Homo sapiens: one gene and its partner. The protein of the gene in region 2 purifies or fractionates together with the protein of the main gene of each other region. This does not show direct contact. Each region holds a gene or a part of one and is shown on either strand. Other genes may lie near its edges.

The links. The genes of interacting proteins can lie anywhere in the genome.
Region 1: the proteins of GNA15 (region 2) and WDCP purify together in Homo sapiens (affinity purification with mass spectrometry; 2 studies listed by BioGRID and IntAct, with this or other methods). This does not show direct contact.

Annotation. Positions count from the first base shown.
Region 1 is NC_000002.12:24,029,548-24,038,286, reverse strand, and holds part of WDCP (WD repeat and coiled-coil-containing protein), read left to right. Parts: coding exon 1-610; intron 611-5,029; exon of another isoform or gene 5,030-5,081; intron 5,082-5,340; coding exon 5,341-5,458; intron 5,459-7,124; coding exon 7,125-7,354; 3' UTR 7,355-8,739.
Region 2 is NC_000019.10:3,158,953-3,164,908, forward strand, and holds the end of GNA15 (guanine nucleotide-binding protein subunit alpha-15), read left to right. Parts: intron 1-3,840; coding exon 3,841-4,067; 3' UTR 4,068-4,797; downstream 4,798-5,956. UniProt on the Homo sapiens protein: Guanine nucleotide-binding proteins (G proteins) are involved as modulators or transducers in various transmembrane signaling systems.

The sequences.
Region 1 (8,739 bases), on a different chromosome or scaffold from region 2:
AGGAAAACAAAAACTCACTGATACAACATTTCTTCCTTCTTCAAAGTCTGATCAGTATGCCATTAGCTTGATTGTTAGAGAAATAATGTTGGAAGAAGAACCTTCAATAACATCAGGTGAAAGCCAGACTACCTACTCTACTTTCAGTGCTCCGTTAAATAAAGCAAATAGAAAAAAGTTAATTGAAAGTCTTTCCCCAGATTTTTGTCACCAAAACAAAGGGCTGTTGCTGACAGTTAATACCAGTAGTCAGAATGGAAGGCCTGGAAGAACACTTATTAAAGAAATCCAGAGTCCTCTGTCTAGTATCTGTGATGGCTCCATAGCTCTAGATGCTGAGCCTGTTACCCAGCCAGCATCGCTGCCCAGACACAGCAGCACACCAGACCACACCAGCACACTGGAGCCTCCTCGTTTGCCTCAAAGAAAGAACTTACAAAGTGAAAAGGAAACTTATCAGCTGTCTAAGGAAGTGGAAATTTTATCTAGGAACCTGGTTGAAATGCAACGGTGTCTTTCTGAACTTACAAACCGTCTGCATAATGGGAAGAAATCCTCTTCAGTGTATCCACTCTCTCAAGATCTTCCTTATGTTCACATCATTTACCAGGTAAATTCTCCTTTGAGGAACTACCACTATACATAAAAGCTCCTGCAGCCGGTGAGTACTGCAAGAAACGTATTGATGAGGAAGATGGTGCTCTAACTGAGCTTCACTAAGCTGGGCATGTTATGTTACAGGCAAGTTGGTACACCTTTGCAGGTTGGTTGGTTTTTAGCCTGCCAACCAGATAGGCGCACATATCAGTCTGCATCATGATTTTATCAGGTGCATGACGTGGAAAAATAAATGTCTGCACTAATTCGGGCAATTTATATTTAGAAAAAAAATCATGTTATTTCATTGTGACAACCTTTTCCTTATATAATAGAGATACTCCTCCAGTTATAAAAAAGGTTATGTTGCTGGGCTCCATGGCTCACGCCTGTAATCCTAGCACTTTGGGAGGCCGAGGCAAGTGGATCACCTGAGGTCAGGAGTTCGAGACCAGCCTGGCCAATGTGGTGAAACCCTGTCTCTAACAAAAATATAAAAATTAGCTGGGCATGGTGATGGGCGCCTGTAATCCCAGCTACTTGGGAAAGCAGGAGTATCACTTGAGCCCGGGAGGCACAGGTTTCAGTGAGCCGAGACTGTGCCACTGCACTCCAGCCTGGGCAACAGGGCGAGACTCCGTCTCAAAGAAAAAGGAAAAGGTTATGTTCATTTAAAATGTTTTGATGCATTTCTTTATGCATGCATGTCCAAACATTATATAAGTGGGATCATATTATACATGTTTTTATCATGGACACTTTCCTCCTATATAAAATATGGCCTTGCCCCATCTTCCCCTTAATCCGCTGTAACCAGCAGCTTAACATGGATCCTTTCGTGACTTTCTCCATGGTCACATGATCTAACACAGGTCTTTGTGTACATAGATATATAGGTATGTGGGAATGGTTTGTCATTGTTTTTACAAAAATAGGGTGATATGGTGCACTCTTTACTTCATACTGAGAGTATGCTCTTTATTTAGCCATTCCCTTGTTGATTGACATTCACTTTGTTTTTAGTTTTTAGCTACTCCAAATGATGCTGCAGTAGTACTCTTATATGTATCCATTCATATTAGTACCTTTATTTCTGTTGGATTGGTTCCCAGAAGTAGAAATGCAAATTTGAAGAGTATATGTGTTTCTACTTTTAATTGAGTTACCAGATTGCCTCTCAAAGATTTTTACTTAACAGTGCATCATCACACGCCCGCCAGCTATGTATAAGGCTGTCCTTTTCCTCGTATGTCACCAATCTGATCAGTGACCCTCCTGCTTCAGCCTCCTGAGCAGCTGAGACTACAAGCACATGCCACCACACTTGGCTAATTTTTTTTTTTTTTAGCAGAGACAGGATCTTGCTATGTTGCCTAGGCTGATCATGACCTCCTGGGCTCAAGTGATAGTCTTGCCTCAGCCTCCCAAAGTGCTGGGATTACAGGTGTGTGCCACTGCATGTGGCCCCAACCCTACATTTTTTTAAAGAGGATTTTTGCCACATTAACTACATGGAGTTTTCAGTAGTAGAGTTTTAATTTTTTTTTTTAAGTCACAGCTTTGCTGTGAGGAGCATTTTATTTTATTTATTTATTTATTTATTTATTTATTTATTTATTTATTTTTGAGACGGAGTCTCTGTCACCAGGCTGGAGTGCAGTGGCGCGATCTCAGCTCGCTGCAACCTCCAACTCCCAGGTTCTAGCAATTCTCCTGCCTCAGCCTCCCAAGTAGCTGGGATTACAGGCACGTGCCACCACACCTGGCTAATTTTTGTATTCTTAGTAGAGGCGGGGTTTCACCGTGTTGGCCAGGATGAGCTCAATCTCCTGACCTTGTGATCTGCCCGCCTTGGCCTCCCAGAGTGCTGAGATTACACGTGTAAGCCACTGCGCCCGGCCTAATTTTTTTTTAATTAAAAAAAATTTTTTTTTAACTATAGAGACAAGGTCTTGCTATGTTGCCCAGGCTTGTTTGGAAGTCCTGGGCTCAAGCAGTCCTCCTGCTTCAGCCTCCCAAAGCGCTGGGATTACAGGTGTGAGCCACTGCACCCAGCCATAGTTTTGATTTTTTTAAAATTATTTTATTTATAAATGTGATAACTGGTTTGGATTTCTTTCCTACTATGACTTTTTAAAGAGTTTGTTTTCTTTTTCTTCTGTCTTTTTTTAATAGGTAATTCATTTATTTGGTTTAAAAAGCAAAACTGTATTTTAATAAAAACTGTATACCAAGAACTCTTATTCCTACCCTATGTTTCTTCAGCCTGTTCTCCTTTCCTCCTTTAGGTAACCATTTTTATTTTTATTTCTTTATGCAGATACTAGCAGACTTTAGTTATGTATTTTTATTTCCCCTTTTGTTACACAAAAGGGAAGGTGATATACACACCTTTTCATTTTCCATTTAATAGTATGTCCTAGAGAGCTCTTTATATCAGCACACAGAGCTCTTTTTTCATCTTTTTTTCCACAGCTGCATAGTATTTTTTTTTCCTAATTACAAAAGTAATATATACTTGTTGAGGAAAAAAATTTTACCATTACAGAAAGTAAAAATTTTCCATAATCCAACCTTTAGAGAAAATCACAGATATAGCTAAATATTTTATTAGATGTTAGATGTAAATATTTCCATATTTTTTCTGTACATTTATCTAATCCAAAAAAAATCTAATATAAAAATATATTATTTTTAAAATTTTCTTTAAATAGGCTATTTTACTTGCAAACAATAATATATCTTTCTGTTTTTAAAACACTTATAAATGTAAAATTTTATATTTTTAAAAACTAAGGTTAAAACAACCATGTTTGGCCAGGCACAGTGGCTTAAACCTGTAACCCCAGAACTTTGGGAGGCCGAGATGGGTAGATCACTTGAGTCCAGGAGTTCGAGACCAGCCTGGGCAGCATGGCAAAACCCTGTCTCTACCGAAAAATACAAAAATTAGCCAGCCGTGATGGCACCCACCTGTTTTCCCAGCTACTTGGGAGGCTGAGGTGTGAGGATCACCTAAGCTGAGGAGGTTGAGGCTGCAGTGAGCTGTGATCGTGCCACTGCACGCCAGCCTGGGAAACAGAGCAAGACTCTGTCTCAAAAAAAAAAAAAAAAAGTTTTGTTGCCCTTTCAATTCCTCAGTTTTTTAGTTTATAATTATGTCATCCAACCAAGCTGTTGTCAGTAGTTATCTCTGGAGGATAGAATTTTGGGGGCTTTACTGTCTGCATTATATATTTCTGTTATATTTTTATTTTATTTATTTATTTTTAGATAGAGCTTTGCTTTGTCACCCAGGCCGGAGTGCAGTGGCGCGATCTTGGCTCACTGCAACCTCCGCCTCCTGGGTTCAAGCGATTCTCTGCCTCAGCCACCCAGGTAGTTGGGATTACAGGTGTGCACCACCACACCCAGCTAATTTTTGTATTTATAGTAGAGATGGGGTTTCACCATGTTGGCCAGGCTGGTCTCGAACTCCTGACCTCAAGTGATCCACCCGCCTTGGCCTTCCAAAGTTCTGGGATTACAGGCGTGAGCCACCACACCCGGCCCTATTATACTTTTAAAAAATTGATCATTTATTCCTTTTGTAATGAGAAAAGTAAAAGTTACACAATAATCAAAAGCAAGAAATAGTTTCCCCTGTAATTTCAGAAATTACATTTCATAAGACGTGAAATAAATGATTAGTTGGTTTTGACTTTTACAGTTTATTCCTGTGACTTCATTTAAAAATATTAGTGGACATATTCTTTGAGTGGTTCATCCTACCACAGTGATGTATAGTTTTATTTTCTTTTTATGAGATGGGGTCTTGCCATGTTGCCCAGGCTGCTCTCCAATACCTGGGCTCAAGCAATCCATGCACTCTGGCCTCCCAAAGTGCTTAACAACAAAATAAGTTAGACACATAACTTATACAACTGTCCTTCATTTATTTATTTATTTAGAGATGGAGTCTGTCTCTGTCACTCAGCCTGGAGTACAGTGGCACCTTCTCAGCTCACTGCAACCTTTGCCTCCTGGGTTCAAGTGATTCTCCTACCTCAGCCTCCCGAGTAGCTGGGACTACAAGTGTGTACCACCATGCCTGGCTAACTTTTTTATTTTTTGTAAAGACAGGGTTTTGCCATATTGCCCAGGCTGGTCTTGAACTCCTGGGCTCAAGTGATCTGTCCATCTTAGCCTCCCAAACTTTTGGTACTAAGGGGTGAGCCACTGTGCCCAGCCAATTTTTAATGACTTTAAAATTTACAAATCATTTATTTTTATTTGTGCTTTTTCTAAGCTATGTGAATTTTGACCATGGTTTGTTTATTTTATGCAAATCCTCTGCTACTCTACCACTTAGGACACTCTCTCGGCATTTTTTTTCCTAATAAACCATGAGGTGTCTTAGCTATATCTGAAACAGCCAAGAAGGTGTTCTTACCGTCAGATTGTGTCTCTCAGGCTGCTGTCCATCATCCTTTTAGTGTTATTAGTTGTATTCTAGGAGAGCCAGTTCCTAGTGATGAAGAACCCTGAGGAAAGAGTAGAACAAAAGGAAAAATAAGGCTGTTTTGTTCGGATTTTTTAGTTGTGTTAAATAATGCAGCAAAGAGCTCCTTAAAACTGAAGTCCAGTTGATTAGTGGTAATAGATAAGAATTTTTTAAAAAACTATTTACACATTCCTTTCTTAAGAAATGTTAACTCGATTACTTCTGCAATCAGTTTAACAACTTTTATTTTTTATTTGCAGAAACCTTATTATCTAGGTCCTGTTGTTGAAAAAAGAGCGGTGCTTCTCTGTGATGGTAAACTAAGGCTCAGTACAGTTCAGCAGACTTTTGGCCTTTCTCTCATTGAAATGCTACATGGTAGGTCGTGCTCAGAAATTGACCCTAGCTAACATCCTTGCCTCCCCCACCATCTGTTTTAACTATGCCGGTAATGAAAATGAGGGATACCAACCATTCAGTAATTCACTGGATAGTTAACAAGTAATCTATTATTATTATTATTATTGAGACAGGGTCTTGCTCTGTTGCCCAGGCCAGAGTGCCTCGGTGTGATCATAGCTCACTGCAGCCTCGAACTCCTGAGCTCAAGCAATCCTCCCATCTCAGACTCCCAACTAGTGAGAACTATAGGTGTTCACTACCATGCCCAGCCAAGTTTTGTTTGTTTGTTTGTTTGTTTTTTGGAGATGGAGTCTTGCTCTGCCACCCGGTCCTGGAGTACAGTGGCGCAGTCTCAGCTCACTGCAACCTCCGCCTCCCGGGTTCAAGCAATTCTCCTGTCTCAGCCTCCTGAGTAGCTGGGACTACAGGCGCACGCTGCCATGCCTGGCTAATTTTTTGTATTTTCGTAGAGACGGGTTTCACTGTGTTGCCCAGGCTGAGCTCAGGCAATCCGCCTGCCTCGGCCTCCCAAAGTGCTGGGATTAAAGGCGTGAGCCACTGCACCCAGCCTCAGCCAAGTTTAAAAAAAATGTTTGTAGATAACGGGGTCTCACTCTGTTGCCCAGGCTGGTCTTGAACTCCTGACCTCAAGTGATCCGTCCACCTTGGCCTCCCAAAGTGCTATGATTACTGGCATAAGCCACCACACCCAGCCTTAACAAATATTATTAATTGCCTACTATATACCCAGGCCTAGTATAGGTGCCAAAACATATGGAAAATATGCACCCTGCCCTTAGGGAACTTACAGCCTAGCTGGAAAAGTTAAATGTACATATGAAAAAATAAGAAAAGACTTACAAAGCAGTGTATAACAACTGCAAGGAAGTAACAGAAAGCCTCATTTATTTCTGTTGCACTAAAATGTAAAGATCATAGCAGCATTGCAGAATGTTTCTTTCTTTCTTTTTTTTTTTTTGAGACCGAGTCTCACTCTGTCACCCAGGCTGGAATGCAGTGGCATGATCTCGGCTCACTGCAACCTCCGCCTCCTGGGTTCAAGCGATTCTCCTGCCTCAGCCTCCCGAGTAGCTGGGACTACAGGCACATGCCACCACGCCTGGCTAATATTTTGTATTTTTAGTAGAAATGGGGTTTCACCATGTTAGCCAGGATGGTCTCGATCTCCTGACCTCGAGATCTGCCCGCCTCGGCCTCCCAAAGTGGTGGGATTATAGGCGTGAGCCACTGCGCCCGGCCTACAGAATATTTCTTTGAGGAGTTGCCATTCTAATATGGAGTAAACATGGATGTTCAAAGGATATTCCTAAGTGGCAAGGGACTGAGTCATGCCAGATTCATCAGATGTGGAGCATGGTTGTTTTCTTATGCCTCATTCTTGTAACAGTAGCCACCACATTGAACATCAAATATCATTTCATTTTTTCCCCTTTTTCTCCTACCTGACCCTAAGTAATACCCAGTCTTCCCAATACCCCATTCTCTGTAAAATCTTACAAGGATTGAGTTGAATATTATCAACTACTATATTCCTTCACTCAGAAAAAAAAATTTGTAGTCATATGTTTCATCATAAGAATAATATATACTAAATTGCCTGTGTATTTATTTTTATTTGCAGATTCCCACTGGATTCTTCTCTCTGCTGACAGTGAGGGCTTTATCCCGTTAACCTTCACAGCCACACAGGAAATAATCATAAGAGATGGCAGCCTGTCCAGGTCAGATGTCTTCAGAGACTCTTTTTCTCACAGTCCAGGTGCTGTTTCTTCTCTTAAAGTCTTTACAGGCCTTGCTGCCCCCAGTTTAGATACCACTGGCTGTTGTAACCATGTAGATGGCATGGCTTGATATCTGCAGTGTCCTTGCTGTGTAGCTCTTCAGATGAGACCATTACAAACAAGGCCTGCTTGACACTGGACACTCGCCAATGAGACTCCCACTGCACTCAGGCGAAGCGCTTGCCATGGTCGGCTCTCCTGGTTTCCCCCTGTTTCCCCTGAGCTGAGGCTCGCTGCTGTGTAGCAGAGCTCAGTCTTTATTAGATGGCTCCGAAAGTGGTGTTTATGTATTCATGACTGTGTGGTTTTGACTAAGGGCAGAATTCTCAGAACAAAACAATATTATGGTGCCATATGGATGGTGTTTTATGGTTTCTCTGAGGCTTTGTGTCCCTTGTCCAAAGCTGCATTGAAGCTGTCTTAGGAGCACTTAAAAGATACCTTGGCATTGTTATAGGTCTTTTTCTTGGCTTCAAGAGGAGGTTGAGGAGTCTGCTGGGGGGCATGTGCTCTAGCATATTAACCTCAAACCAGCAAGAATTAGCAGAGCTCCAAGGAGGACCAGAGACCCACTGGCTTCTGCTCTCAGGAACAGGAAGTGGCTCTGATGTTGCCTGGACCTCCCAGAATTTAAACCAAACCCTCTTGCTTCCTTAACAAATTCTGGCTGACGAAGGTCCAGGTACTCTTAAAAACTGGCCCTGGGAAAATTTTGAATGAAATTTCAAGGGAATTTGTCCCCTCTGGGTTCCACTTGAGGTTGTGCCGATGCTGCTACCACACTGTCGAGCCCAGGTAAGTCCTACTGCAGGATTTTGTGCTGTGGCCACTCATGAGTGTCCCTGAAATAACTTTTTTTTTTTTTAAATCCAGTTTTGGGATCACGCAACTTTCCTATTTTTCTCCCAGTAGTCAGCTCCCTTAGTTAACTTGTCACTTTAATTTGATATTTTTATTTTCTCTCCTTTTAAGTCTTAGAGACCAGCAGAGAATCTGTGAGAGAAAGTATTTCAGGAAGTTAGAAATTCAACCGAATCTGAGGTAGTCCTAAAAAGTGCCATTTTGTTTCACTTATGGGCTAAAGTACCAGCTTAGTCAGGTAAGAGCCCTGACCCACTTCAGATGGTAACACCACTTCTCACTGCCTTCAGATGGAATCACAGATTTCAGTCACGGCGCATAACAAATTGATCAGTGAGTGGCTAGGCATCTGCAGATAAATTGTTTCAGCCATAGAAGCTCCATTAGCACATATGCTTCCTTTTCCCCCCTTCCTTTAAAATCATCTGGAAAGAAACTATTTTGTGCCCTTGGGGACTCCTGTCTGTCTGTTACAGTTTACCAAGATGGAGCTGGGTTAGGAAAGAAGTGAGGGCCCATTTTGTGGTTCAAGTGCACTAGACAGCTGCTGGGGTAGGAAGCACAGGCAATGTCTGTAATCAGCTGTGGGAGAGC
Region 2 (5,956 bases):
CTTTCATAGTGATCTCATCTATCCCTAATTGGATAGCAATTTCTTTTTCTTTAATCCATTTTTTCTTTAATTTTTTTTTGTTTGTTTTTTGAGACGGAGTCTCGCTCTGCTGCCCAGGCTGGAGTGCAGTGGCGCAATCTCAGCTCACTGCAAGCTCTGCCTCCTGGGTTCACACCATTCTGCTGCCTCAGCCTCCCGAGTAGCTGGGATTACAGGTGCCCGCCAGAACGTCTGGCTAGTTTTTTGTATTTTTGGTCGAGATGGGGTTTCATCATGTTACCCAGGTTGGTCTCAATCTCCTGACCTCATGATCCACCTGTCTCGGCCTCCCAAAGTGCTGGGATTACAGGCGTGAGCCATCGTGCCCAGTCTATTTTTTCTTTAATTTCTTTTCTTTTTTTTTTTTTTTTTGAGATGGAGTTTTGCTCTTTTTGCCCAGGCTGGAGTGCAATGGCACAATCTCGGCTCACCGCAACCTCCGCCTCCCGGGTTCAAGGGATTCTCCTGCCTCAGCCTCCCGAGTAGCTGGGATTGCAGGCATGAGCCACCACCCCGGCTAATTTTGTGTTTTTAGTAGAGACGGGGTTTCTCCATGTTGGTCAGGCTGGACTTGAACTCCCGACCTCAGGTGATCCACCCGCCTCGGCCTCAAAGTGCTGGGATTACAGGCGTGAGCCACCACACCTGGCCTTTCTCTTTAATTTTTAAAGCAGAGCTTTGAACAATGTTTCCAAAGCACACAGCTTAGTTTTGTAATACAATGACCTTCTTTCATGCGGCACTTGTAGCTACAGATTTGCATAACGTTTCTTTTAATTACATATGAATCAAGACACGTACAATGGGCAAAAACAGGTTTGGGAACAAACTCTCAGTCCATCCAGAGGGTGAAAGGGCCACAGGGCAACTACAGAGAAACACCATCTAGTGTTGGGCACCACTTAGTATATTTTACAAAGGGGAGGCAGAGTTGTGGTTAATCCAGGGACCAACGTGGGGAAGGTACATATTCACTAGCACTTTCCCCAGAACACCACTGTGAGGATAAAGTGTGGTGGCGGGTGTCCTGCTTAGCTACTGCCGAGTAACAAACCATCCCCAAACTTAGTGACTTAAACTGGTCATTTTCCTTTGCTTATGATTTTGTGGGTCAGGAATTTGGGAAAGGTTGAGCTGGGTAAGTTCATCTCTGATCCATGTGACATCAGCTGGGCTCTATGGGATTGGAGATAAACTTCCAAGATGGCTTCTTCCCCCATATGTCTGGTGCCTTGGTGCTCTTGGCACTCTTGGCCTCTCTCTCTGTGTCTCTCCCTGCCTCCCTCTCCCATCTCATCTCTCTCTCCTCCCCTTTCTCCTAGTCTGTCTCTCCTTTTCCACCTCCCCTGTTCTCTCTGTCTCCATCTGGGGCCTCATGATCCACAGCCTCTTCACATGGTTTGAGCTTACTCACAATATGGCTGCCTCAGGGTAGACAGACTTCAGCCCAGGTGGAAGCTGCTTCTCATGATAGCCTCAGAAATGTCAGACGTTACTCTGCCACATTCTATTTGTCAAGCACATCACTCATATCAGCCCGGATTCAAAAGAAAGAGACTCCATCTCTTGAAGGCAGCATGACACATGCATACAGGGAGGGAAGGAAGTGACGGCAGCCATCTTGGAGATAACTTGCCTTCATGTCCTGGGGATGCCGTAACAAAGTACCACAAACTGGGTGGCTTAAAACAACAGGAAACAACAGAAGTCCAAAGTTAAGGTATTGGCAAGGTTGGTTCCTTTTGGAGGCTCTAAGGGAAAATCCATTCCATGCTTCTCTCTCAGCTTCTGGTGGTGGCCTACAATCCTTAGCTTGTAGACATATCACTGCAATCTCTGCCTCCATGTTCACATGGCTGTCTTCTCACCATGCCTTTATGTGTCCTCTCCTGTTGTTATAAGGCCACCAGTCATTGGATTTAGGGCCCATACTTTGGTATGACCACTTTTTTTTTTTTTTTTTTTTTTTGAGACAAGGTCTTGCTCTGTTGCCCAGGCTAGAGTCCAGTGGTGTGATCACAGTTCACTGCAGCCTCAACCTCCTGGGCACAGGTGATCCTCCCACCTCAGCCTCTTGAGTTGCTGGGACTACAGGCGCACACCACCACACCTGGGTAATTTTTGTATATTTCTGTAGAGACAGGGTTTCGCCATGTTGCCCAGGCTGATCTGGAACTCCTGGGCCCAACCACACATCTGTCATCCACCTGCCTTGGCCTTCCAAAGTGCTAGGATTACAGGCGTGAGCCCTCATGCCTGGCCATGACCTAATTTAACTTAACTAATTACATCTGCAAATATCCGATTTCTAAAAGTCATATTCTGAAGTTCCAGGTGGACATGAATTTTGGGGGACACTGTTCACCTCAATATACAAGCAACCATAGTAGATGAGTCCTTAGTACATGCTTGACACCAGGTCCACAATCAGTAAACATAAACTTTGGTGAAGTCACCAGGTTTTGATCCCTGGTCTTGTCATGTCTCAGAGCCCATGAGGCCAATTTTAGCCAATTATACCCACAAGATTCAGGGTCTGGGAGATAGACGTCAAGTTGTTCCAGGATGGTGGCCTGGATAGCCCCTCTTCCTTGCCAAGCAGCCCTGGGAATCAGCTCATAGTTTAGAGAATTTGGGAACAGGATAAGGTAGATATTTTTTTCATTCAGGTCAAAGGGAACCACCCATGACTCATCCTTGTCTCCCAGCACAAGTGACTGGTGCACTCTTTGCTGACTCCCAGCCCTACCCTCCACTGTGCTAAATAATATTTGTGATAATAATAAGAAACCACACTTTGGGAGGCTGAGGCGCGCAGATCGCTTTAGGTCAGGAGTTTGAGACCAGCCTGGCCAACATGGCAAAGCCCCATCTCTGTTAAAAATACAAAAATTAGCTGGGTGTGGTGGCGGGGGCCTGTCATCCCAGTTACTCGGGAGGCTGAGGCAGGAGAATCGCTTGAACCCAGGAGGTGGAGGTTGCAGTGAGCTGAGATCATGCCACTTCACTCCAACCTGGGTGACAGAGTGAGACTCTGTCTCAAAATAATAATAATAATAATAATGATAATAATAATAAAATTGATAACAGCAGCTAACACATCTACCGCACTGGTGGAAGCACTCTACAAAGCTTCTTTAATCTTCATGTTAAAACCCTATGCAGGGCTGGGCACAGTGGCTCACGCCTGTAATCCCAGCGCTTTGGGGGGGTCAAGGCGGGCTGATCATTTGAGGTCAGGAGTTCGAGACCAGCCTGGCCAACATGGCAAAACCCCATCTCTACTAAAAATACAAAAATTACCTGGGCATGGTGGCAGGCGCCTGTAATCCCAGCTACTGCCAAGATTGCACCATTGCACTCCAGCCTGGGCGACAGAGCGAGGCCCCATCTCAAGAAAAAAAAAAAGAGGACTCTCTTCCCCTCGTTTGGCCTTGATGCCGCCATCTTCACAGTCCTGGGATATTTGTCTATGCGATTCCAGTCTTCCAACTGCACTGGCTGTAAGCGAGGCCAAGAGAGTGTCTCTCTTTAACACAGTTCTGCCCGAAGTCCCAGAGCTGGGTCTCATTGGTCCATTTCAGGTCACATGACTCGTGTGAGACAATCTCCTGTGTTCCCATTGGCTGGGCCGGAGTCGTGTGACCAGCTATGACTACAAAAGATGGAGTCAACGCACAGAAAAATGACAGGCGCGATCCCTGGGTCCCTTCAGTGCTGGTTACAGGGAAGAGGGTCTCCAGAGGCCCCCTGGGTCCAAAGAGGGAGGGTCCTCACCCCCTTCCCACACTGTTTCCCCAGGCCCTAAGCAGGATGCTGAGGCAGCCAAGAGGTTCATCCTGGACATGTACACGAGGATGTACACCGGGTGCGTGGACGGCCCCGAGGGCAGCAAGAAGGGCGCACGATCCCGACGCCTCTTCAGCCACTACACATGTGCCACAGACACACAGAACATCCGCAAGGTCTTCAAGGACGTGCGGGACTCGGTGCTCGCCCGCTACCTGGACGAGATCAACCTGCTGTGACCCAGGCCCCACCTGGGGCAGGCGGCACCGGCGGGCGGGTGGGAGGTGGGAGTGGCTGCAGGGACCCCTAGTGTCCCTGGTCTATCTCTCCAGCCTCGGCCCACACGCAAGGGAGTCGGGGGACGGACGGCCCGCTGCTGGCCGCTCTCTTCTCTGCCTCTCACCAGGACAGCCGCCCCCCAGGGTACTCCTGCCCTTGCTTGACTCAGTTTCCCTCCTTTGAAAGGGAAGGAGCAAAACGGCCATTTGGGATGCCAGGGTGGATGAAAAGGTGAAGAAATCAGGGGATTGAGGACTTGGGTGGGTGGGCATCTCTCAGGAGCCCCATCTCCGGGCGTGTCACCTCCTGGGCAGGGTTCTGGGACCCTCTGTGGGTGACGCACACCCTGGGATGGGGCTAGTAGAGCCTTCAGGCGCCTTCGGGCGTGGACTCTGGCGCACTCTAGTGGACAGGAGAAGGAACGCCTTCCAGGAACCTGTGGACTAGGGGTGCAGGGACTTCCCTTTGCAAGGGGTAACAGACCGCTGGAAAACACTGTCACTTTCAGAGCTCGGTGGCTCACAGCGTGTCCTGCCCCGGTTTGCGGACGAGAGAAATCGCGGCCCACAAGCATCCCCCCATCCCTTGCAGGCTGGGGGCTGGGCATGCTGCATCTTAACCTTTTGTATTTATTCCCTCACCTTCTGCAGGGCTCCGTGCGGGCTGAAATTAAAGATTTCTTAGAGGCTGCGTCGCCAGCGTCCTGTTTATCCCCTCTGCATTCCTTTCTCGGCTTACGTGTCCCGGGGGCAGTGCTTACAGTGCGGGGAGCAACGTGGAGTAGGAAGGAAAAAAGTTATACTTCTTGTCTACCCACCTGTCCTGGCCATGGTACCCAGAACTGTGGAGGCTGTGAGTCCCGCAAGCCGGGACGTGGAGTCCAACCTCCCTCCCAGGCTGGGGGGGACATTGAAGCAGACTCCTCCGTGGCTACTGACCTGAAATTCCAGTAGCAGCCCCCACCCAGCTTTGAGAAGGCCTCTTACTATCCTCAGGGCAGTGTTCTGGGGTGCAAGCCGTAGCACCCCACTTTACAGGTGAGGAAACCGGGGCGCAGAGAAGTGGAGTAATTTGACTAAGCTCACACACCTGGAATTGACAGAGGCAGGAGCCTGTTCCTACGTTGAACACATTTGTGGTTTTTTATTTGTTTGTTTTTTGAGACAATCTCACTTGGTTGCCCAGGCTGGAGTGCAGTGGTGCGATCTCGGTTCACTGCAGCCTCTGCCTCCTGGGTTCAAGTGATTCTCATGCCTCAGCCTCTGCAGTAGCTGAGATTACAGGCACCCGCCACCACACCTGGCTACTTTTTTTTTTTTTGATGGAGTCCCGCTCTGTGGCCCAGGCTGGAGTGCAGTGGCGCAATCTCGTCTCACTGCAACCTCCACCTCCCAGGTTCAAGTGATTCTCCTGCCTCAGCCTCCTGAGTAGCTTGGACTACAGTTGTGTGCCATCACACCTGGCCATATTTTTGTATTTTTAGTAGAGACAGGGTTTCACCATGTTGGCCAAACTGGTCTCAAACTCCTGACCTCAAGTGATCCGCCTCCCTCGACCTCCCAAAGTGCTGGGATTACAGGCATGAGCCACCACACCTGGCCTAATTTTTCTTCTTATAAAAACACTAGTCACACTGGATCAGGGTCCAGCCTGTCATCCCCATCTTAACTTGATTACATCGGCAAAGACCGTATTTCTAAATAAGGTCCCATTCACAGATACCGGGGGTTATGACTTCATCATATCTTTGTAGGGGAGCCACATTTGAACCTATAAAAGGTATTTTGTAATACAAAAAGGAGCCGGGCGTGGTGGTGCATGCTTGCAATCCCAGCTAATTGGGAGGCTG